7 linked regions of the Homo sapiens genome follow. The protein of the gene in region 6 interacts with the protein of the main gene of each other region in a biochemical or structural test. Each region holds a gene or a part of one and is shown on either strand. Other genes may lie near its edges.

Evidence for each region.
Region 1: the proteins of REELD1 (region 6) and LDB3 interact in a test that uses a peptide from one of them, tested with the Homo sapiens proteins (one large-scale study listed by IntAct).
Region 2: the proteins of REELD1 (region 6) and FRMPD3 interact in a test that uses a peptide from one of them, tested with the Homo sapiens proteins (one large-scale study listed by IntAct).
Region 3: the proteins of REELD1 (region 6) and PARD3B interact in a test that uses a peptide from one of them, tested with the Homo sapiens proteins (one large-scale study listed by IntAct).
Region 4: the proteins of REELD1 (region 6) and SYNJ2BP interact in a test that uses a peptide from one of them, tested with the Homo sapiens proteins (one large-scale study listed by IntAct).
Region 5: the proteins of REELD1 (region 6) and GRIP2 interact in a test that uses a peptide from one of them, tested with the Homo sapiens proteins (one large-scale study listed by IntAct).
Region 7: the proteins of REELD1 (region 6) and DLG2 interact in a test that uses a peptide from one of them, tested with the Homo sapiens proteins (one large-scale study listed by IntAct).

Annotation. Positions count from the first base shown.
Region 1 is NC_000010.11:86,675,011-86,678,510, reverse strand, and holds part of LDB3 (LIM domain-binding protein 3), read right to left. Parts: intron 1-3,500. UniProt on the Homo sapiens protein: May function as an adapter in striated muscle to couple protein kinase C-mediated signaling via its LIM domains to the cytoskeleton.
Region 2 is NC_000023.11:107,456,152-107,459,651, reverse strand, and holds part of FRMPD3 (FERM and PDZ domain-containing protein 3), read right to left. Parts: intron 1-3,500.
Region 3 is NC_000002.12:204,548,475-204,551,974, reverse strand, and holds part of PARD3B (partitioning defective 3 homolog B), read right to left. Parts: intron 1-3,500. UniProt on the Homo sapiens protein: Putative adapter protein involved in asymmetrical cell division and cell polarization processes. May play a role in the formation of epithelial tight junctions.
Region 4 is NC_000014.9:70,407,091-70,410,590, reverse strand, and holds part of SYNJ2BP (synaptojanin-2-binding protein), read left to right. Parts: intron 1-3,500. UniProt on the Homo sapiens protein: Regulates endocytosis of activin type 2 receptor kinases through the Ral/RALBP1-dependent pathway and may be involved in suppression of activin-induced signal transduction.
Region 5 is NC_000003.12:14,516,343-14,519,842, forward strand, and holds part of GRIP2 (glutamate receptor-interacting protein 2), read right to left. Parts: intron 1,556-3,500; coding exon 1,430-1,555; intron 872-1,429; coding exon 722-871; intron 1-721.
Region 6 is NC_000004.12:146,224,538-146,228,037, forward strand, and holds part of REELD1 (reelin domain-containing protein 1 precursor), read left to right. Parts: coding exon 1-71; intron 72-3,500.
Region 7 is NC_000011.10:83,464,845-83,468,344, forward strand, and holds part of DLG2 (disks large homolog 2), read right to left. Parts: intron 1,974-3,500; coding exon 1,864-1,973; intron 1-1,863. UniProt on the Homo sapiens protein: Required for perception of chronic pain through NMDA receptor signaling. Regulates surface expression of NMDA receptors in dorsal horn neurons of the spinal cord.

The sequences.
Region 1 (3,500 bases), on a different chromosome or scaffold from region 6:
AAAATTAGCCATGCCTGGTGGTGGGCGCCTGTAGTCCCAGCTACTTGGGAGGCTGAGGCAGGAGAATTGCTTGAACCCAGGAGGCAGAGGTTGCCGTGAGCTGAGATTGCACCACTGCACTCCAGCCTGGGTGACAGAGGGAGACTCGGTCTTAAAAAAAAAAAAAAAAAGGGTGGCCAGGTGTGGTGGCTCATGCCTGTAATCCCAGCACTTTGGGAGGCTGAGGCAGGCAGATCACCTGAGGTCAGCCTGGCCAACATGGTGAAACCCCGTCTGTACCAAAATTACAAAAAAAATTAGCTGGACATGGTGGCATGTGCCTGTAGTCTCAGCTACTCGGGAGGCTGAAGCAGGAGAATCGCTTGAACTCTTGATTGAACCCAGGAGGTGGAGGTTGTAGTGAGCTAAGATTATGCCACTGCACTCCAGCCTGGGTGAGAGCGAGACTCTGTCTAAAAACAAACAAACAAACAAAAAACTGCAGGCTATTTGTAACCTTGATTAGCCTCTTATAACCCCTGCACCCTGCAAAGCTATGGAGCACTTTTCAGACTCCAGGAGAAAAGGGAGATGCAGCAGCTAAGACACAGCAGCATCCCAGAGACACTGCCAGGCTGAAGGGCAGGATAAATGCACCCACTCAAAAGCATCTTAGTGCCAGGTGCTTTGTGCTACCTGGCAGATGTGGAGAGAGTGAGGTAGCCGACAACCCTGCCTGGATGAGCAAACTCAGCTGGGAAATGGGGCAGGGCTTAGGGTTCTGTAGTTGATGTCATACCTCCAGAAGGCAGGGTGCAGGTGCGGGGGCCAGTTCCCAAACCCTGAGCCCCGATAATACCACAGAATGTTACAGTCTGGAGGCCCCATCTTCAGTGTAACCACACAGAATGCCACTGCAACTCCATCCCGGGAATTCCCCATGGAATCTCAGGAAGGCCACACCTCCTGGGACATTACTTGGGATGTCATCGTGGCTCAGACTGCACTCTTGGGGACATCATGCACGATGCCAAATTCTGCACCCCCGGCCTCCAGTAATAGCACACTGAATGCTTTGGTGGCCCTGCCCACAGTAATATCACATGAGATGCAAAATTTCAGAGGTTCTAATAATGTCACCTAAAAAGGCTTGATGGCTGGCCCCTAGTGACATTAGCAGCCCCACCCCTAAAGATACCTCATGGAATGCCAGAGACTCTGGCTGTACCCTCTGTGACATCACATGGAATGGGCTGGCCCCTGCTAATATCACATAGAATGGCTTTATGACCTGACTCCCACCATACCATGTTGGAGGTCCCCAACCCCCATGACATCATGAGGAGTGCCATGCAGGCCTGGCCTTCAGGGACATCACAGGAAAGAGGAGGCTCCGGACCCCACCCCCTACAAGCTGTGGCTGGAAGTGTTCCTTGGCTTTGCCTCCCAAACATGCCCACCAGCCAGTCCTCTGGGCTTCTCTGGGCACATCCCAGTCACCTTCCTGGCTATAACCCAAGGACCAAGCCAGCTCCTAGTGTTGGCAGAAGCTAGATTCAGGCCAAGGCCCGAGAACCATCCTAGAAGGAGCCCAGAGAGGCTCTGGGGACAGTCCCTTGCCCCAGGTGCCAAGCCTGGGTGGGCCTCTGGCCAGGCTCTGGGCTTACAGACATGGGTGGAAGCTCCTGCCAGTCCCCTCACAGGGAAGCCCCTTCCAAACCAGGATGCCCTGCAGTCACCAGTCACCAGTGTCCAGCCCATTCCCAGATGGGCTCTGCAGATGCAGCCCAGGAACTGAGTTGTTTCTGCACGACCACATTACGGGTCACGGAAACACTGCCCTACACCACGTGGGTGATGACGGCAAGACCAGGACAGCCCTCTCCAATTGCTGTGAACCTGCCATTTCAGCCCTAGGGGCTGTGGTGCCCTCTTTTTTTTTTTTCTTTCTCTTTTTTTTTTTTTTTGAGACAGGGTCTTGCTCTGATGCCCAGGCTGGAGTGCAATGGCATCATCTCGGCTCACTGCAACCTCCGCCTCCTGGGTTCAAGCGATTCTTCTGCCTCAGTCTCCCCACAGTAGCTGAGACCACAAGCGCATGCCACCATGCCCGGCTAATTTTTGTATTTTTAGTAGAAAGGGGGTTTTACCATGTTGGCCAGGCTGGTCTTCAACTCCTGACCTCAAGTGATTGGCCTGCCTCAGCCTCCCAAAGTGCTGGGATTACAGACATGAGCCACCACACCCAGCCTGTGGTGCCCTCTTAAAATACTGGCCACCTTGTGCCCACAGCGCCCCTTCCCCTGCCCTGGAATCTGCAGAGACAGGAAAGGACAATATAGAAACAGACGTCTGGACTGCCAGGAAGCCACAGCATCTGCTTTGCAAAGTCCAGCTTGCCCTCCAGGCCCCGCAGGGGCATCTTAGAGCTACTTGAGATTTCTTAAAATACACATAGCCCTTACCCCCAGACTCATTGCCATAGCCTCTATTAATGACAGGAGTGTATTGCTGCCTTGAGTGTAGAGGTGAACAAAGTGTAAAAACCAACATCAGTGAAGGAAAGCAAAAGAGTTTTCTAGACTGAGAGGGGACTCCTGGGGGCAAGTTGAGCTGCCCAGCCAGGCCTGTCCTGCAGAAAATCAACTTTCCCTACTCCTCTATGTGATCCCCAACATTTTATTATAGACATTTTTGCAGATTTCTAGGCAGGAAAAGTAGAAAACATTCTAAAGTGTATACCTGAACACCCGCCACCATGGCTGTACCATAACATTTCACTCGCTTTGCTTTATCACACTCCATCCCTCCACATCCATCAATCCATCTCATTTGCCGGGCATTTCAAAGAAAGTTGCAGGTACCAGCATACTTCTTTCCAGGGCGAATTTTGCAATGTCTGTTCTGTCCTAGTGAACTGCCCATGGGGCTCCCCCACAGCAGGACACCCCCACAGCAAGGCTCTCTCACGGCAGGGCACCCCCAAATGCCCATCTACAGAGAAGGGGTCGTCCCCCTGCAGGGCTGGGTCATTGCAGACCCCACGCAGAAAGGCTGTGGCCTCGGTCACAGAGGAGATGCTGACAGGAAAGATGGGAGTTGTGTCCAGAAGATCATGATGACAGCATGAGCAAGGGCAACAGAATGATATCCAAGAGAGGCTGGGGCCAGATCAGAGGGGCCCTCTGCAGGGCTATCTGACTGTCCTCCCTCTGGAGCTGCCTCAGAGACATCTTTCTCCCACAGGCATGGGTCAGCGGGCACCAGCCCTCCCCACCAGGTCTCCTCACTTCCCCTCACCTAGACCTGCCTGGCTCTCCCTCATCCTCAGGTATGGGCCGGGGGGATGCTTGCTCCCAAGGGAGAGCTCAGCCTCCTGGGGTCTGGTCAGTAGCCAAGCCTCTGACCAGAGGGAAGTGGCTGAGCTGGATCCCCTGCCCAGTGCCTCTCCCCTGCAGCTGTGTCTGCTTGTCAGGGCTCAGCTGGCCTGGCCTTTGGCTGCCCTGAGTAGGGTCCAACAT
Region 2 (3,500 bases), on a different chromosome or scaffold from region 6:
TAAAAGGAGACTAAAATCTCACAAATATCCCTTTATCTGCAGTTCTCTATTTCCCTCCAATCCAGGGCTGGCAGACCTGGCCCAGACACCTATCCAGGGCTGATATTCAGTGGATTGGGTGGGGAGGGGAAAGTTGGTGGGGGAGGCAATTTAGCAGGCAGAGGCCCTGGCCATGACTCTCCCATCAACCTGTGGACTCCTCACTTAGTTTCCTTATACCAGCTGCAACAGGGCTCCAGCTGGCATCAAAGTGCTGTGGTAGCTCTTGCCATACTCTGGCACAGGTGTGACCTTCACTGAGATGATTCCCAAGTGCTCAGAAGAGTTTTCAAACTGATTCTACCAGGGAAGTTGAAAGATGTTTCCTCACTCTTACCAGCTCTCAGAAGCCTTGGGGGACTTGAAACAGACCAGACACAGGCATCGCCTGCCTCCGGCCTCCCTGTTGGGGGATGTAATACTCAGCACCCCAGCTTGGCTATCATCTCAACTGCATTCTGCAGCCAGATTCCTCATTGCTCACTCTTTCAGGTCATGGTACTGAAGGCCCCTGTGCGCATCTACTTTACTTGGAAAGGATAACTGATTATAATGCCCAATGTTATCTTAGCTCCAGAAACTCTGCCACCTTAAGGTCCTGAGGGCATGAGGCAAAGAAAGTGTAAGTATTGAGGCTAAGAGGAAGGAGCGAGTGAGACAAAAACAAGTCAAGAAAATCTACTTGGTGGTTTATCAGCCACACCGATGCCTTGAGAGCCTTTTGGATTTGACCCTCCTCTCTATGCCCACTGCCACCACCCTTATCACCTCTCACTTAGATTGCTGTAGTATCTTATAGGCTGGTCTCAAGTCTCTCCCTATTCCAATCAATTCTGCTTCCAACTGCATAGCTAACCATCCTGAATCACTATGCATAATTGTCCGACAGCCCCCAAGGTTTACCCAAGTCCAAACTTCTTCTGACATCAGAGACTCTTCAAATCTGGGAGTCCCATACCCAGCCAATCATTTTTTCCCCACTGTGCCTGCATATACACCCTCTCCTCTAGTCAGACTTCTTTCTGACCCTTTCTTGATAACACCCTGACCATTTCCATCTCCAGCCTTTTCCCTATGCTGTGCCTCCCCCTCAGAAGCCTGTTCCTTTTCTAGTCAACAATCTCAATCTCACATGTTACTCAAAACATAACGCAGGTTCAACTTCTTCTGGGAAGACTTCTCCCCTCATTCCAGCCCACACTCTCATTCTCTCTGTGCTTTGAACCCCTACAGTGCTTACTGTTTAGAGCAAAAAAATGTGGCACATAATTGTTTTCCATCTTGTATTATTCTTAGTTACTTCATATGAATGAGTATTATTTTTCTGTTAAATTACGGATTTCCAGAGAGCAGGGCCTTTGCTTTCCCCTTCTCACCATAACATTAGTACAGGGCTAGATCCTGGAGTGGTCAATAGACTTCTCTTCCCATGCCTTAACTCCAGTATGAAGGAAGGATGAGATAAGTGAAGCCCGCTAAGGATCTCCGCTGTTCATTCCCTCACCTTTCTCAAAAGATGTTCCAGACGGCAGAGGAGCTGAGGCTGCCGAGTGAGACATAGGCAGCCAATCAGCTGTCAGATCCTAGCTTTCAGAACACTCCCACCTCCTAAGGTTTTCTGGGCAATCAATAACGCTACTTAAGTGATCAATCTGAGGCACAATGGGCTGTAGGGGCCAGTGTTTGATTAACTTGAGAGAATAAATGTACGCTGGAAGAGAAAGAGCAGGGAGGGGGGAGCAGAAGAAAAAGCAAGAAGAAAGATGAGCTAGGGGAAGGAAGAGAGAGAAAAGCCTTTATGAAGGAGGGTATGATGGGATGGAGCTGAGAGTAGTTCTCACCTAATCCAATTCAACGAGTTAAGCAAGTTCCTACTGAGGTGTCGAAATAATCTTGGGGCTTTGTCAGAGTCCAGTGAATATCCCAGGGCTTTTAGGCAATTTTTGACTTTGGCAAGAACACTGTTGCCATGGTCCACTGAGGGTCCACACAGCCTCCATATTGGGTGGAAGAGTGGGTGTGGGATAGAGACTTCAGCCAATATCAAGGAAAGACATGGATCTTGAGCTATGCTCATTGGCTGTGTCTAGAGAAATCCCAGGTTCTGGCATCCTACACTCTCCTACCCAAGCCTGATGACTCAGAAACCCATGATGATATGGGACAGTAGGCTCATCTGCAAGGGAGATATCAGCATTACCTTCTCTCTATCCAGAATTGTATATACTATCCTCCCTCTCAAGGCCCTGGAGCTGGAAATTTAACTATTTGCAGTTAACAAAAAATACGGAGTCCCTTTCCAAATGTTTTCCAAACATTATCAAATGTTTAGCTATACCACGAATCAAATTTTTTTCTGGGAAAGATAGTATTATCTGGAAAAAAAAAACAGAGCAGATGGCCTCTTACTGTGAGAAAGTGAGAAAGTTCCTCCTTTAATCTAACCATGATACCTGCTGCTCTCATTAAAAACTCATCCTTCTCATAGGATGACATTGGTACCCTCCTGGTTATGCAGGCTCAAAGCCTTAGAATCATCTTTGACTCTTCCTTCTTCCTCACCCCACGCATTCAATTGGTAGGTAAATCAGGTTTCCTCTACCTCCAAATACATTCACCCATCTTCTTTCTGTCCCCAACCAGCTATGGTAACAACCGGCTAACTGGTCTTCCTGCCTCCAGAATGATCTTGTTTTAATCATTATGCCAAAGCGAGAAAAAAAGAAAAATGAGCTTGAATCTAATCAAGCCCAGAGCTAACTTCCATTTATAGAAAATATAGGGGATAGGTGAACAAGCTAACTGGCAATAAGAGGACAAACCAGAATGTGGGAATTGTGCAGAGCAAACAACCTGATTTCTGTGACAAGTCAAAGAGAGAGGGCTGTTGAAAGGGCCTTTAGAGACATAACAACCAAATGTCACGTGTGGAACTTTTTTGGAACGTCCGTCAAACAAGCCAACTGTAAAACATGTTTTGAGACAATTGAGGGCATATGATTATGGACAGGGTAATGGATAATACAAAGGCATTATTGTTACTTTTGTTAGGTGTATTAGCAGTTCTGTAGTTATGTTAGAAAATGTCCAGTTTTTAAGAAATGCATAGAGAAATATTAGGAATAAAATGATGTGATCGATGTTTGGCATGATAGGTGAAGCAAACATGGCAAAGTCCTGATAACTAGTTAATGTGGATAATGAGTATGTGGGGGTTACTATACTATTTTCTCTAATTTTTTTGAGGTTGAAAATATTTATAAGAAAAAGTAAAGACAGGCTGGGCACAGTGGCTCATGCCTGTCATCCCAGTGCTTTGGGAGGCTGAAGTGGGAGGATTGCTTGAGCCCAGGAATTGGAGACCAGGTTAGGCAACACAACAAGACCCTGTCTCTATGAAACACTAAAAATTAGCTAGCAACTCGAGAGGCTAAGGTGGGAGGATCACTTGAGCCCAGGAG
Region 3 (3,500 bases), on a different chromosome or scaffold from region 6:
CTGCCCTCTTGAAAGATGCAGATCTAGAACATCTCTTCATCCCAGAAAGTTCTACTGCACTACACTGCTTTAGATTTTCCAAGAGAGGCCCAAAGCTCTGAATGTTTAACACACTCCTCAGATGTCTTTAACAGTCCACTCATAAAATAGTCTCACAAAAATCTGACAACATTACCATTTGCCCAACTTCTTCAAAGGGAATCTGTAGCACAGAATACCCTGGGAATGAATTCCTGGTTAACTAAGCCACTTGATTAAGCACAGGGCCTCAAGCTACAAATCAGGGCTGTGGCTCCCAATCGCGCACAGGGCAATTAACTCAGCTCAGATAACCAGCCAAACCCGGTTCAGCAAACCCTATGTGCATGGATTATACACAGAGGGTGTGTGGGGATGTGTGTGTGAGAGGGAGAGAAAGAGAAAGAGGAGGGAGGGGAGAGAAGATCCAGGAGCACAAACTCAAATGCCCACCAGCAGGCCAAATAGCAACCATGAATTAAGGCCATAAGTGAGAAAATAAGCACAGAGTAAAAACAGTCAAGCATGATGACAATAACTTATCCTCACTGTTAGGGAAGCAATAATGGAGACTGAAGCATTAATAATTCTTTCTAAAGAGAGCAGAGGTGTCTCAGCTCCAACTGATGGTTGCTATGTGGGAAAGTAAAGCCCAGCATTGTCAGAGCTTCCAATTTGCTTTTCCCCCAAAGAAGATAGGAATCTGGAGTTTTGCATGAAATCTCAAAATATTTAAATGCTGACAACTAAGTCAAAATATAACACTGAGCAGACCTACAAAAATATGTCTGTGGGTCACAGCAGGCCCCACGAGCCCTCTGTTTGCAAACTTAGAAGCTGCTCAATGCAAGCTGAGTAGCAGAACCAAAACCAAGTTGGAAGCATGTGTAATGCTGATGGCGAGTCAGTTCTGTCCACATGCTGTAAAGAAGTGAGGTCTGAATAGGAAATAAAGCACTCAAGTAAGTCAGTGCCCAATCAATTGAAAAGCATTTGAGGAATCCAGTCTGGGCCTAGCTTATGTATACAAGAACCTTAAAATCTATTTAGGTAACAAGGCATCAAAGCCTGAAAAGTTTAGAAATTCAAGAGTTCTAGCCTATTCCTCCAGGCTACTCCCACACATTATCATACCAGATTCTTCTAACTACACAAATTCTCTTAGATTCCGATCCCACAGTTAATCAGGGAATGGAATTGTTAGTCTAATCAGACTACTCCCAGTTCTGGGAAGCTGCCTCAACTTGTAAAACAAACATATTATTCAAAATATCTGAATACAGAAAAGATTCATCTTGAAAACCCTATCAAATATAATTTTTCCTTTCCAAAAAAGGGTGTACTCACATACGCAGTCAGAGCCACAAATTGGCCTTTGTAAATTCCAGCATGCCTGCTATTCCACGAATTCAATGCTCTTATTTCTCATTCATTCCAACCCCAGAACACACTATACATCCTCATTACTAGACAAGCCTTTCCCTTATTCACTTCATCCTCAGTGAATACACACACACACACACACACACACACACACACACACAGTCAGCCCTCCGCATCCATGCATTCCGCATCTGCGGATTCAACCAAACCCCAGATCAAAAATATTTAGAAAAAAAACTACGTGTACTGAACACACACACACAATTTTCTTGTCACTATTCCCTAAACAGTATAGTATAACAACTGTTTAAATAGCTTTTACATTGTATTAGGTATTATAAATAATCTAGAGATGACTTAAAGTATACAGGAGGATGTGTGTAGATTACATGCAAACACTGCAGCATTTTATATCAGGAACTTGAGCATCTGCAGATTTTGGTATCCGAGGGAAGTCCTGGAATCAATCCCCTATGGATACTAAGGGACAACTGTCTATATAAAATGAATGTTCACTTTAAGCAATTATTTGAGCACCTTCTATAGGAAGAATTCTTTAAGGGTAGGAGTAGGAGTATTCCTAATGGCACTAAAAGGTCAATAAATACTCTAACAAATTCCATGCTTTTATTTGTTTGTTTTTTTTTAATGAGAAAAGGCCAGAAATGTCAAAATTCATTTTGAAAAACAATGTGTAATAAATTCACTTTCTGTAAATCAGTGAAAGACACTTAAAAGGTTTGAATCCCTAGACAGCAAGGTTTTAAGCCCTGCACTTCATAATAATAATCCCATTAACAAATAACATGTATTGTGCTTATTCTGTTGCTTAATAACAGATTGGTGTGTAGATATCTAAGACACAGTATCTGCCATCAAAAGAGTTTAAAATCCAATGAGTTCAGCCATACGAAAAGATTAGAGTAGATTAGTGATTCTCAACCTTGGCTGGGCATTAGAATCACCTGGAGTGCTTTTTAAAATACCTATGCCCAGGACCCACTCCTAACCCAATGAATGAGAATCTTGGGGGAAGGGACACAGGTATTTGTAATGTTTAAAATGTTTAATGTGAAAATTAGAGGTTACTGAAGTTCAGCCAGGGTTGAGAGTCCCTGCAGGATACAGCTCAATTACCCATTCACCTGTGACACATAATTTTGATGATAAATTTAACTAATTACTCAACGATCCCCACCATAAGCACATAAGAAGACAATCACTTCTCCACTAACAACTTCACTAAATTGGATTTGGAGGCTGGGACACTGATAAAGTGTCAGGATTCGGAGATAAGCAATCCCACAGTTCTCACCTCTCAGTCCACCACGTTTCCAATGGAGTTCATCAAATGGTGGCAGGAACCTCAAAGGCCCAGACTTCAGAGCATAATTAAAGCCTTCCCAAAAGCTCCCCCTGTATCTTCAGGATCGCATCAACCTCTGGCCTTATCTGATGTTGATTCAGGGGGTTCCCAACATTCCACAAATAGGTTTTCTTTGTTCTCAACAGGTAGTGGTTACTTCTCAGACGCTGTCCACGAAATATAGAATGGCATTCTTGGACTTCACTTACTTTCCAAACTTTAGAAACCTCAACTTCATCCTCAATCTTGAAACCTGTCTTTCTCCCATCTACATTACTCAGTGCCTCAGAAAATAATGGACTTACTTTACATTCATGTTCCCACCAAATTTGGTTCTTTATAGCACTCGCCACCTGGATGTCTAAGATCTTGCCCATTTTCCCATTTGTAGTTAGACTGAGGAATATTTTTCATAGTTGATTTGCAAATCCTACAATATTTGCCTCAGAAACTAGATTTTCTACATGTAGACCTCATAAAATATATAATTAAGAGAAACTTGTGGATATCCCATCACTATTCCAGAAGCAAAATTGCTATTTTTAGGTTGATGTGATATAGCAGTTAGTAGATGGAAATGTCTTTTTAAATCAAGCATTAAAAAACAAACAATATGGATAAATTCCAATTCATAACAACATACATAGTACTAGGCTATGCAGTTAATGGCTGAGAGCAAACATCTAAAGACACAGTTCCTGGTTTCTAAACCCAAATCTACGACTTACTTGTC
Region 4 (3,500 bases), on a different chromosome or scaffold from region 6:
TATGGATAGTGCTGCAGTGAACACATGCATGCATGTGTCTTTAATGTTTTTTTAATGCTTTGTCTAGTGCATGACACACAGTGGTCAGTAAGTGTTCATTAAATGACTGAGCAAACTGATAGATATCATAATAATATAATGGAATGTTTTTATATTTATTTATTTATGACATAGGGTCTTACTTTGTCACCGAGGCTGGAGTGCAGTGGCACGATCTTGGCTCACTGCAGCCTTGACCTCCTGAGTACAAGTGATCCTCTTGTCTCAGCCCCTCAAGTAGCTGGGACTACAGGTGTGTGTCACCACACCTGATTAATGTTTTTATTAGCCATATTTTTCATAGAGACGGGGTTTCACCATGTTGCCCAGGCTGGTCTCCAACTCCTGAGCTCAAGTTATTCACCCACCTCGGCCTCCTAAAGTGCTGGGATTACAGGCGTGAGCCACCACACCCAATGTACTTATTTATTTTTGAGACAGGGTCTTGCTCTGTCCCCCAGTCTGGAGTACAGTGGCACTATGACAGTTCACTGCAGCCTCGACCTCTTGGGCTCAGGTGGTCCTCCTGCCTCAGCTTCCTGAGTAGCTGGGACTACAGACATGCACCACCACACTTGACTAATTTTTTTTTTTTTTAATTATTTGTAGAGACGAGATCTCACTATGTTGCCCAGTCATGCCTTGGACTCCTGGGCTCAAGTGATCCTCCACCTCAGCCTCCCACAGTGCTGCGATTCCAGGCATGAGCCACTGTGCCTGCCATAATGGGATGTTTTAAATAAAGAGAAGCAGTAACATGATCTGTTTCAGCTTTCAAAAAGTGGTAAACATGGTTCTTCACTAAATACAATTTGAGAAAGAGAGAATGAGGATGGACACATTGTATTATGATGGATAGGAAACTGGCTAAGATATCAGAAACAAGGAGAAGGAGTAGATGGAACACCTCTTGGAGAGAGTCAGGTAAATGGAACAGTTCTCTAAAGATTGCTTCAAGGATCAGTATTAAGATCTTTTCAAAACAATACTAAAGAAAAACTGTACAGTAAAATATCTAGGAATTACTTTGGGGAAATAGAAAGGCAAGCTGATAGATGTTCAACTGCAGAAACATTTTGCGAAGCCATGTGACTAGCCAGAAAAGTGGTCAATGATTACATGTGATAAGTACACAATTATTTATTGAGGGAAAAATAGCCAAACTATACTTAGATGATAGGGTCAGAACTGCTGGTTTCAGAAGACTGAAAAGTAAAGTAAAACTATTTTTTAAAATTTATTTAGCATTTATTATGTGCCTACACTATGATTAGGAATCATGGACACTAGAATAAAGAATAAGAAATGATCCCCATTTTTAAGAATTTTGCAGTTCAAGCCAGGCATTGTGGCTCTTGCCTGTAATCCGAGCACTTTGGGAGATCAAGGAGGAGGACTGCTTGAGGCCAGAAGTTCAAGACCAGCCTGGGCAACATAGCAAGACTCCCATCTCTGCCAACAAAACAAAGCAAAACAAAACAAAACATTAGCTGTGTTTGGTGGTGCATGCTTGTAGTCCTAGCTACTTGGGAGGCTGAAGTGGAAGAATTGCTTGAGCCCAGGAGTTCGAGGTTGTTGTAGTCCTAGCTACTTGGGAGGCTGAGGCAGGAGAATTGCTTGAACCTAGGAGGTGAAGGTTGCAGTGACCTGAGATCGTACCACTGCATTCCAGCCTGGGCGATACAGCGAGACTCAGTCTCAAAAAAGAAAAAGTGCCAGAATGCTTGAGTTCAAATCCTTACTCTATCACTCACTCACTGTGTGACCTTGTGCAAGTCACCTCACTTCTATCTGCCCCAGTTTCCTCAGCTATAATATGAGAGTATTATTAGAATCTACTTATAGAGTTGTGAGGATTCAATGATTTTTTTTTTTTTTGAGACGGAGTTTTGTTCTTGTTGCCCAGGCTGGAGTGCAGTGGCGCAGTCTCAGCACACTGCAACCTCTGCCTCCCGGGTTCAAGCGATTCTCCCGCCTCAGCCTCCCAAGTAGCTGGGATTACAGGCGCCCGCTACCACACCTGGCTAATTTTTCTGTATTTTTAGTAGAGATGGGGTTTCACCATGTTGGCCAGGCTGGTTTCTAACTCCTGATCTCAGGTGATCCACCCATCTCGGCCTCCCAAAGTGTTGGGATTACAGGTATAAGCCACCACGCCTGTCCGATTTTTGTTTTATAAATAATTTGTAGTGACGATTCTGTACTGTCTTAAGCACTTTACCACAAAACAACTCATTTAATTCATTGAAGTGCTTTAAGGATACTGCTATGTGGGGAGTAGACTTTATGGGGCAAGAATTGAGTCATCTAGGAAGGGTAGGGTAAGCTGTGTCAGTAATTTCAGGGATATGGGGCTTCTGTTTCTCTTTTTCCCTCCTTTTATGCCTTAGTTTATAAAAAAACCCTATTACTGCAATAGTCCTTCCCCCTCCTCCAAAAAAAAAAAAAACCTGTTAGAAGCTCCCAGAAACATTTTTAACCTTGTGAGATTTCCCTAGAACTGGAAATGTTAGAAATTCCTGACCTAGGTGTAATTTTCAATTCCAATAATAGTCAATTGACACCAGTTGGGCTTTGTGTATGTACTAGGTACTATATTGGCACAGGAGGTACAAAAATGAATATAAGCTAATTACATTGTCTTCTAGGAACGAATATTGCAATAGGGTAATGAGACAATTAAACAAGTAATTTCATGTTTTCAGGCAAAGGGAAGAAGACATCCAAAGTCACGGAGATAAGCAGTAGCTGTGGGCGGGGATGATAGGGTGAAAAGCGATAGCAAATATTAAATTTTGTTTACTGTATAATGCAAAGTAGAGAATGTCCAAAGATGGCTAGAAAGGTAGATTATGGTGATTTTGAGTTTAAACTTCATCTTCTATGTTTTTTTTTTTACTTTGATTTTATCTTGGGGATATACTTAGAATTTATTTAAAAATCATTTTATCATATTTGCATAGGAAATAGTAGAAAAAGTCTACTGTAAGGAGGATACTATAACAAATTTTTTTTTTGCTTAATTAACACAAAATTGGTGCTTTGAGAAACTTTAGCCTTTTATTATTGACTAAGTTGGTGCAGAAGTAATTGTGGTTTTTGCCATTTTTTTTTTTTTTTTTGAGACGGAGTCTCGCTCTGTTGCCCAGGCTGGAGTGCAGTGGCACAATCTCGGCTCACTGCAAGCTCCGCCTCCCAGGAGATCACGCCATTCTCCTGCCTCAGCCTCCCAAGTAGCTGGGACTACAGGCGCCTGCCACTATGCCTGGCTAATTTTTTGTATTTTTAGTAGAGACATGGTTTCACCATGTTAGTCAGGATGGTTGTGATCTTCTGACTTCATGATCCACCTGCCTCGGCCTCCCAAAGTGCTAGGAGTACAGGTGTGAGCCACCGCACCTGGCCGGTTTTTGCCATTTTTTATAGCAAAAACTGCAATTACTTTTGCACCAACCTAATAA
Region 5 (3,500 bases), on a different chromosome or scaffold from region 6:
ATCTTCTATCCTTCCTGGAGGCCTCTGCAGCTCATGTGGCAGGAGGCTGAGAACCCTTTCTGCATCAACAAAGGAAAGACTGTTCCCAAGAAGGGTTTCAAAATTTTAGGCATTATTGTGTTTTGCCACTTCCACAGGGCTCCTGCCTTATCATTCACTACTTTTGTCTTCTATTGATTTACTTTTCTTAACATGTAAATATCTTTATTTCAAAAGGGCAATTTTGAACAATAAATAAGCAGAGAAGTAAGACTGGAAATTATTACATTCTGGACAGCTAGAGTCTCAGGCCATGTCTTTGTCTTAGGGGAAATTAACAAATGGCAGAGAGGTGGTAAGGATATAGTAACGCAGCACTGAGGCTTTATCCATGAATGAATCAGGACTGAATGGCAAAAAATGTGAAAACTTCATGCACATCTGAAAAGACTTCCTTTCCTCAAGGACGTTATCACCAAATCCTAGGAATTTTTCATAATAAAAATACAAGAATAAAAGTGTACAAAGTAACTGGCACCTCTCAGTGGTCCTCTTGAGCAGTGCACAACCTGCCCAACCATCCATGACAGCCTGGTGTTCCACTCATGTTATTTAACATTCCCACGCATACACCTGGAGCTCTGCCCAAAATACCTCCCCTCGCCCTGACATACACCCTTTGGCAAGCCTCACTCTCAGACATACAAGCAGCCCAAGGAGGAGGGAAGAGACCACAGCTTACACGAGCTCTTGTGTTCCCTTCTTCGCTGCCTCCTCCGCCCCATTGTAGTTCGAGGACTCATGGGCTGGGATCCACGGGGAAGGGTGCTGGGGTTGTTGCAGGAAAAGGCGTGGTTCAAGGTCGGCGAGGAAAAGGGAGTTGAAGACAAGGCTGGGGAGATGAGAGCACAGCCCCGTGAACCCCAGCCGAGGCTCTCCACCCCACCACACAGTGGGTGCTGGGAAGCCACCCAACCACAGGGAGAGATGGGGATGCCTTCCCCCTTCACATCAGTTACTCATTGTGTGACCTCAGGCAAGTCCCTTTCCTCTCTGGGTCTCAAAGACTGCAGGGTTTCCATAGACCCTGTGAAACTCAGCTATTAGGGACGGGGCCAATCTTGCCACTGGCATGCTAGATGACAATGAGGCAGGCCACCTAATCTCTCTCTCTTTTTTTTTTTTTTTTTTTTTTTTTTAGTTGAGGTCTCGCTCTGTCACCCAGGCTGAAGTGCGGCGGTGTGATCTTGACTCACTGCAGCCTCAACCTCCCAGGCTGAAGCGATCCTCCCGCCTCAGCCTCCCGAGTGGCTGGGACCACAGGCGTGCACCACCACACCCAGCTCACTAATCTCTGAGTCTGAGTTTCCTTCCCTTAGACAACAGGCATCGCCCCCTCCCTAGGAAAGGCTACAAGACTGGCTGAGCTACAGCAGGGCAGGCACATTACATCGGCTTTGGTCCTGGCCAGCAGGTGTGGCCCAGGTGGGCATCCTGCAGTGGCCGGGCCGGGGGCTGTGGCAGGAGGGCACGCAGGGGTCCCAGCGGTGCAGCTGCTCACTCCTCTGCACTTTCACTGTAGCCAGCGGAGAAAGAGGAAAGAGAGGTGCAGGCGTTAGTGGCTGAGGGCACTATGAAGCCAGGAAAGCAAGAACCAGAAGATCCTCGTGCTTCCCCTGAGCCAGGCAAGGCATTTAGTATTCTGCTCACATGTCCCGGACGCCTACAATGTGCCGGGCACTGTGTTCAGAGTGCAGCTGCTGCCACATGGCAGCCTGAGAGGCAGGGACAGGAGAGAGAAAGGAAGCCAGGCCGAGGCCCACTGCTGGGAGGTTGTGGAGCAGGGATTTGAACACAGGCATCCTGCCCTGGAGCCGGAGAGGTCTATGGCTATGAGTGCTGCCATGAAGTTTCTCCAAGAAAGAATTGGTGAGGAGTGCAGCTGGCAGACGGTGTCCAGCTGCAGCACTTTGGGGATATGCAGTGGCTCTGCAGCCCAGGCAGCCTCGGCCAGTGGCTGAGCACCGGGGCACTAGGGCCTGGCTATTTCTGCCCCACGACTCTCCAGGACAGCCTTTGCTCCAGGGCTTCCTGCTGGGTTGGCCAAGGCTGAAGTGCACCACGGGCTGAGGCTGCTCCCCCTTCCCAGGCTGCAACCCTTCCCAGCCTTATCCACAGTGAATTCTTTGCACTCCTGTTCCAAGTTCCCAGGGAACCCCCACTGCCCCGACCCCCTAGGAGACCCTGCTTCCTCCATCTGATCCTCCAAACTGGCCACCATACAACACCTCTTCCCAGACCGCCCCAGGCCAGCTCTCCTCTTGCGCGGATGGACAGGTGAGGACTCAACTGTCTCAGCCCGTTGATTCTGTCTCCTTGAGCCACATCTCCACAGCCCCCCTCCCCAGGGCTTGGCCCACTCTGGAGCCAGTTGCCTGGGTCAAATCCCAGCTCTGTCCCTGACCAACTGCGGGACCTGGAGGAGTCACTTCGCCTATCTGTGCCTCAGTGCTATTATCTGTAAAATGGGACCAAGAGAGTGGCCACCTCCTCGGGTAATGGGGAGGGTTAGAATGAGTTAATAATATAACATGCTTAGAGCAGTGCCTGGCACTTAGTAGAAGCTCAGTTAATGAGAGCCAAGGGGTTGTACGCAGATGTGTAGCCTTGCAACGCTACCTCAGCTTTCCCTGTAAAGTGGGAGGACAGTAAGACTAAGCTCAGAGAGGTGTCATGAGGAAGTAATGAGGCGTGCAGGCCGCGGCACCGAACCTGGCACGTGGCAGATGCTCGATAAATGGTACGAGAATGAATGACGCTGTTTCAAGCCCTAATGTCACCCAGACCAGTCCCTGGACTGTGGTTCATTCAGTGTGGCTTTTTCAGAAGCTGGCAGAGACCATAGAGATGGACTCTCCCCAAGAACTGTCCTCCCAATCAGATGTGGGGGATTCCGTTCTCTTCCAGAAGATGGGGTTTGCAAAGGGTGGGGTGGACAGACTCCTTCCTCACCCTCCAGCTCTGCCCTTAGGGCTAGGATTTATAGGCCTGGGCTGTGCCTTGTCCTTTATCTCCGTCAGCCTCCCCCATGTCTGTGCATTAGAAGTCCTCCCTCCTTTTTACAGATGAGATGACTGGGACTCAGAGAGGGAAAAGCACTTGTCCAGCTGCTGGGAGCAAAGATGGGACTTTCACTCAAGGCCCAAGGTTTGGGCTGCTGGACGTGCTTTCCTGCCCTGAGCTGAAAGCTGCCCCTCTGTGGCCACCCCCCACCCTGCCCCTGGCCCCAACTGTGCCCTCTGGACCCCCAGACCACCCACTTCCTCTGCTCTTGGAAATGCCCAGCACCCAGCTCCCTGCTCATAGCTGGGAGACCCTGACTCTTCAAAGGAGAAACTCCAGGCCCTCTCTAACTTCCCAGCTGCCTCCTCTGGATCTGCTGAGAGTCACTGAGAAGAGCCCAGGATCTAAGCTCTGAGTAGCAGAGAGCACAGGACTGTTCCCTCCCTCATTCTAGCCCT
Region 6 (3,500 bases):
CCGCATGGAGCCCAGATTGCTGATGCCAAACCTTCACCAGAGGCTGGGCGATGTTGAAGGAGCTGCTCCAGGTACAGCTTGTCATTGTATTTGCCAGGCTGGTTGTCATCATTATTTTTACAGTTATCTATTTTCACTTAAAAGTTACTACTGCCAGTTTCCTGTTCCTGCAAAACAAGCAATAAACACCTGCCGTGGCCAACTGCAGCAGTTCTTGGGGATGTGATAACGCAGCAGTGAGAGGGAGGGAACGCTTGCAGTTGCTTTGTTTGTTGCAGCAAACACACTTTGTCTGGCTCAACCTAACACATTAAGTCAGGCCCCAGGGTGGACAGTGAGAGCTGTGCTGCAATACCAAAAAACAGCATACACCTCTTCCCCCAACATTTACTAGTCCTCACAATATTTCTGCTGTTTTCCTTAGTCCCCTGAAGCTACGCAGGGAGCACAAAAAAGAAATGAGCTTTTCTTCGTCTTTTCTCATAAAAACGCATCCAGTTTTTATTGTTACTTTTCATAGTAGGTAGGTGGCTCTTTGCAACCTGGGTTGGAGAACAGAATCAGGAATCACTGTTTCAATGGGAAGGGATTTTTCCTTGCTCACTACATGGCTTTATATTCCATTAGTCCATGAACTCCTGAAAAAAGAAAAGAAAAGCAACAAAACAAAGGAAAACCACTAGCCAGCTAGAGGCTGTTTGACCTATCTGAAAATCCCTGGTGGTATGGAACTCCTTTTTGTTGTTTATTTCTAGTTAAGTGCTATGAACACAAGCACTCGTAAAAGCATCCAGACACATGCACACAAGACCCTACCCTTAATCCATTCATTCTCCTCTTCGCTTATTCTTTCCTTTACTCTTTGCTAATATGTTAAGGCCAGAATCCAATCAGAATCCCTGCCTCTTCTCAGTCTAGCAGACCCAGGTACAGAGACAGTGGGGACCACCCTCCATTCTCTGCCTTTGCCCCACAACCTTTGTCTTCTTCTATTACCCAGCACAACTCCTCCAACCTTCCCACCAAGACACTCCTAAAAGCAGAGTAAAGATCTCGGAGCCTGAGACCATGGCCTGGAGAAGACCCTGCACCCCTGACATATGTTTGAAATCTCATGTTTTATTTTATGAATGATGCAAGTATCATGTTTTAATCCCAAGTATAACCATGTTTGTTTGAACATGAATATGAATAAAAGTGAAGCTTCAGGAAGAAGTGTCATGTGGAGCCTTGGGCCTTTCTATGCCTGACTCCGCTGGAAACCTTGTCCGCTGGGGGTTGCAGCCTCCAGCCCAAGCAGTTTACAGGGTAACCTCCTCATTACACTGCCCACATTCCTCTCCTTCTGGCCCCAGCCTGTCTTCCCCATTTGTTCCACTACCCAAACCCTAGTGATTCCCAAAGGAAAAAGAAACATGTATGTATGCTTGTGCACGCATGTATGTATTTATGTGCATGCGTGTGTGCATGTGTGTGTGTATGTATTCTGGGAAGTTTGTCTTTGTACAGTTAAGAAATCTATTTCACCTTATTTCATCTAATAAAGTGAAATAGGTTTCTTAACTGTACAAAGAATTCGTAGGCAAGTATAAATTATAAATTTTCAAAATTGGGAAATTAGTATATTGTATATCTGAAACTTATCTCCCAATAGACCAAGACACTTTGAGTCCTCCTCCACCCCATTAGGTATGGTCTACTTTTATATTTTAGTGCCTTCCCTTCTGACACTTCCTCAAACTGGACTGTTCCACACAACAGTTCTCTGCGTCTTTCAAGGCACAGTTCAAATATCTCCTTTGTGAAACTTTTCCTTATACTTCTTGGTAGGCAAGTATCTTAGTCTATTCCAGCTGCTATGACAAAACATCCTAGACTGAATAATTTATAAACAATAGAAATGTATTGCCTACATTCTGGAGGTTGGGAAGTCCAAGATGAAGGCACCATCAGAATAAGTGTCTGGTGAGGGAGGGATGATCTGTGCCTCAACAATGGTGCGTTCTTGCTGTCTTCACATGGTGGAAGGGGTGAACAAGCTCCCTCAGTCCCCTTTTATAAGGCTACTAATCCCATTCATAAGGGCTCCACCCTCATGACTTAAGCACCTGCTAAAAACCCCACCTCTTTACACTATTGCATTGGGGATTTGATTTCAACATATGAATTTTGAGGGGGGCACATTAAGACCATAGCGGCAAATATAATTGCTTCCTTAGCTCTGGTATTAATTGATTAATTAATTAATTTTGAGACAGAATCTCTCTCTGCTACCCAGGCTGGAGTGCAGTGATGCAGTCTCAGCTCACTACAACCTCCACCTCCTGGGTTCAAACGATTCTCCTGCCTCAGCCTCCAAGTAGCTTGGAATTACAGGCATGCACCACTGCACCCTGCTAACTTTGGTATTTTTAGTAGAGAGACAGGGTTTCCCCACGTTGGCCAGGCTGGTCTCGAACTCCTGACCTTAGGTGATCTACTTGCCTTGGCTTCCCAAAGTGCTGGGATTACAGGCGCGAGCGCCCGGCCTCTTTATTAATTTAGGTAGTTTGACATGTAAGGGTGTCTCTTCCCAGTTTTGAGTTCAGGGACACCAATTACAAGTCTGCATTATGTTTGCATCTCCAACAACTATAACAATACCCAGCACACAGCGGGTCTGCAGGAAATATCCAAATGCTCTTAGAGTTCAGGCAGGAATTTGAAACTATCAGTTTGCCATGTTCTGTATGTCTGGGCTAGGCTGCTTTATTCTTCACCTCAACGTTTTTGAGTGTTAAAAACATTGGAGCAAAGGGGTACCTCCTCCACCCCCATAAAGAACCTGGAGCCCTGGCCAGAGAAACTTCTGCCAACACTGTTTTGGTCAATGCCATCATGTCATCCTCATCATCATTGTGGTAAACCCTCTGTGCATGTTGCCTGTGTACCTGTGTGCCAGGCACCTGCTTCACGCTTCCACCTCAATGAGTTCATGTCAACCCCTCAGCAATCCTATGCTGGCCTCATTTTGCAAATGAAGAAACTAATGCTCTGGGAGGACTTCCCCAAAGCCAGAAATTAGTGGACGACTGAACCCAGAAAAGAATCTGACTCTAAAACCTGCACTTGCTTGCTTGCTGCTCCATGTGAAGCTCTTTCTCATGCTCTGGGCTGTCAGGTTAGCCAGTCACAAATGGGAAATTAGATGGTGGAGGGCATTGAAGGGCAGTGATCTCGTCTCTTCTCATAGCAGATGTTCAAGTCATTATCACCAGAGAAAGAAACTTTGAGTGTTAATATTAGGGCAAGAAAGATCTAGGGCTTTGAAAAGTCTTGATTTGTGGGATTTCACTCCTTTTTCTAGCTAGAAGCAGTTTTTGGCAGAGGTGAAATAAATATGGTGGTCACAGTGCTTTCTGTGTTCCCTGAATGGTGGCTGTTAAGAAGGTACAAGCCCAGACAGGCCAGGGACTCACTCTCTAAAAAGATATAAGCCCTTGCGTGGTCAGGGGCTTGTA
Region 7 (3,500 bases), on a different chromosome or scaffold from region 6:
GAAACAGGCCTTTAAGATGGCTGTTCCCAGGAAGTAAGGACTATTTTTCTTCTCATTAATGTTAGCATTACTTATATTTATGAGGCTCTTGACAGATTATAAATCAATTTTACATCATGAAATTTGTACTTGCTTAATTCACTTTGTGCAATGCCCGACATAGTATCCTATACAAGGAGAAATTTAATACATGCTATTGGGGATGATAATATTAAGAATCATTATTTTATCATTAGTACATATTTTTCCATGTGCCAGCCATGGGAAAAACTCTTTATATTATAATTTAATACCTAAATTCATGGGGCTGAAGGTACTGTCAGTGACCTCCCGATCTTACTTTTTTTATCCTGGTAAGAATCCTTGTCCATTTTTTATATATGGGACTATATTCTGCTTTCAAGGTACATCTCTGGCTATTTCCCCAGAGCTCAACTATGTATTTAACTTAATTCTCTCAGGCTGCCACTCCAGCTGCTGCAGTTTGCTTTGCTTCTTTGTCTTCAGAGGAGACACAGAACAGTTAATATCCTCTGTAAGCAATTGCTTTCACCACTGGGATTAAATAATTTCTGTTTCTTCGGTCCTTCCATAAACATTATTTTCCAGTACTCTGTGGTTCACTCCTGAACCCTGTCAAACACTATGGTCTTGAGGCCCAGATGAAGGCAAAATTTGATCAAGGCCCTCATGACAGACACATTGGCATTATCTCTTGCACTGTCATGGAAGAGGTACTGTTTATGTGTTTTATAATGATAAAATAGTTTTATTCCTTTATAATGAAGTAATTTTATATCTTTTACAATAATAATAGGTATTATTTATTGAGTACTTACCATATGCCAAAGAGTACATGAACAGCTTTACTAAATTCCTAATCTTGTTATTTAACCTTTATACTAGCTCTATGAGGTATTTATTAGTATGCCTCGTTTCGAGGTGAGGAGCTAAATCTTAGAAAGGTCAAGCAATTTGCCCAAGGTTACTTAACTGATCAGTGGCAAAGTAAAGAACCAAATCTTGCCTGATCAATTTTCAGGTCCCTGCTGGTAGCCCCTTTTCTGGTTACCTCTATCTACTGTAGCTTCACCTTTGTGAATGGGAGTTGCCTATACTGACTTTACAGTCAGATCGTGAATGTCTGCCCACTTTGTTTAATGATTCTTGAAAGAAGTTATTTCACAAGTCCTTTGGAGGGGAAAAAAAAAGAAAAAACCCTGAGTGCACAGGTATGAAGCTACTGGTTTAAGTTACAGATGTTTTACTGCCACGCCACTAAGAAAACTCTATTAAGAACGATGTTCTATGTATGTAAAGTTTTAATTAAGGAACATCAGAATTCTATTAGAGAACCAAGGAAAATGCCAATGAAAAAAGTCTCAAACGTTGTCTGCTCTCTCTATAAAAAATCTACACATTTAAAAAGATTTACTTATAGACCTGCCTCAGAAGTATGAGACAATTAAAAAATGATTGCTTCCTATCATTTGGAAAACAAAAGCAAACCAAAAAACCAAATCAAGCCAAGCTATCCTCAAAACAACAACAACAAAACCTCAAAAACTAACAAAGAAAACAATCCGTGAAGTAAAACAATAAAAATCAGGAAACATTATTGAAGATGTTTTAAGGAATTACTATTATTGTTAAAATGAGGGATGTTAAAAAAAGAAATCACTGACATTATGTTTCTAGTTGTTTAAAAGAACTTTGATATATCTTCAAAAAAAGAGAATGCTGAAAAATCAACAATGGCATTTCCCATTTGTAAGCATTCCCAGCAAAATCCTGTTAGTAATTTTCAGTATAATACAGAACAGGGAGTCAGTTGGATGAAGGCCTCCAATGCCCTCTACTCACATAAGAGGTTCCAGAGACCTGGGTTTTATGAAGATGGCAATGGGATAGAGCTGGGCAACTTGTAACCGCTTGATAGCATTTCCTGATACATCAAGTATACAGTGTTTGCCCTGGTAGAAAGAGAAGAAAAATATGAAGTTAATATAGGAAGCATGGCCATAATCCAACAAAAGGAAACTAATGTATGTAGGTTTTAGAGGAAGGTAGGGGATGCTGGATTTCTAAAGTCAGAAAAAGATCACTGCAAAGAGTAAATAAAAATCGATATATAGGGTCATCATTGAGTGTTTACAATAACTAATACTAACTAGCCCCTTACAAAGTGTCTGCTACTGGACTGGACATTTTACATATGTTCTCTCAGTTAAATACCTGATGTAACACACAAAGATGACATGCAGCCGTATGTTATGTGACTGAGTCTGTTCTCATGAAGTTTAAAAACCATCTCTGAACACAATTGTCAGAAGAAATTCCCAAATCTCTGAGGTAGGTATTATCAGCTGCATTTTACAGAAGACTCACACTAACTAACTTGCCCAATAGTTTAGTGCTAGGAGCATGCAAACCCAAGTCTGGAGCACTAACAGAATTGTTGGTTGGAAAAAATAGACACCTCATTGTCTCACCCTGCCCAACATTCGGTGTGGAAGATTGAGAATAATGTGAATTTTTCCAAGTACTTGTACATATCCTGTCTGCAAGGTACTCAGTCTAGTGGAGGGCAGACACAAAAATGGTTAACTTAAACATATGGTTGGTTGGGTGCAGTGGCTCATGGCTGTAATCCTAGCACTCTAGGAGGCCGAGGCGGGTGGATCACCTGAGATCAGGAGTTCGAGACCAGCCTGACCAAAATGGTGAGACCCTGTCTCTGCTAAAAATCCAAAAAGTTCACCAGGCATGGTGGTGGGCACCTGTAATCCCAGCTACTTGAGAGGCTGAGGCAGGAGAATCACTTGAACCCAGGAGGTGGAGGTTGCAGTGAGCTGAGACCGTGCCATGGCATTCCAGCCTGGGCAATAAGAGTGAAATGCCATCTCAAAAAAAATAAAAACTATATGTATATATATATATATATATATATATATATATATATATATACACACACACATATAAAATATATAATTAAAACATATATATATATATATATATAAATTAAATGCGGGTTAAATGCCAAGAGAGAAAGGCTTGCATGAGGTATGTAAATTTCTTGTTTGTTAACAAATAAAAATGCTATTACATTATAGCACACCTCATTTAACTTGGCTTCCACCACAATGAGTGCTCAGAGCAAGCAGCTGCTTTATAAAGCATTTCTGGATATGCAGATACATTTGCCACATCATATTCTACCTCCTGGAGAGAAATGTCCTCATTACCCTGAGGCTAGAATAACTTTATGCAAGAAGAGAAAAAAGGCACTTTATGCAGATAGGAACAATACTAAATCAATAATAAGGGCTAAAATCTCATCTATAATGTTCACATGAAAATGAATACAGTCCAGTGAATACTTGAAGTCTTCTTATCTGAGAAACCCACTAAGATGGTTCAAGCCGTTATTACTTAGGTAATAGATTTCAAGTTTTCTATCTGTGAAGTGCAGCAGCCACATAACATGTATAAATGCTGGT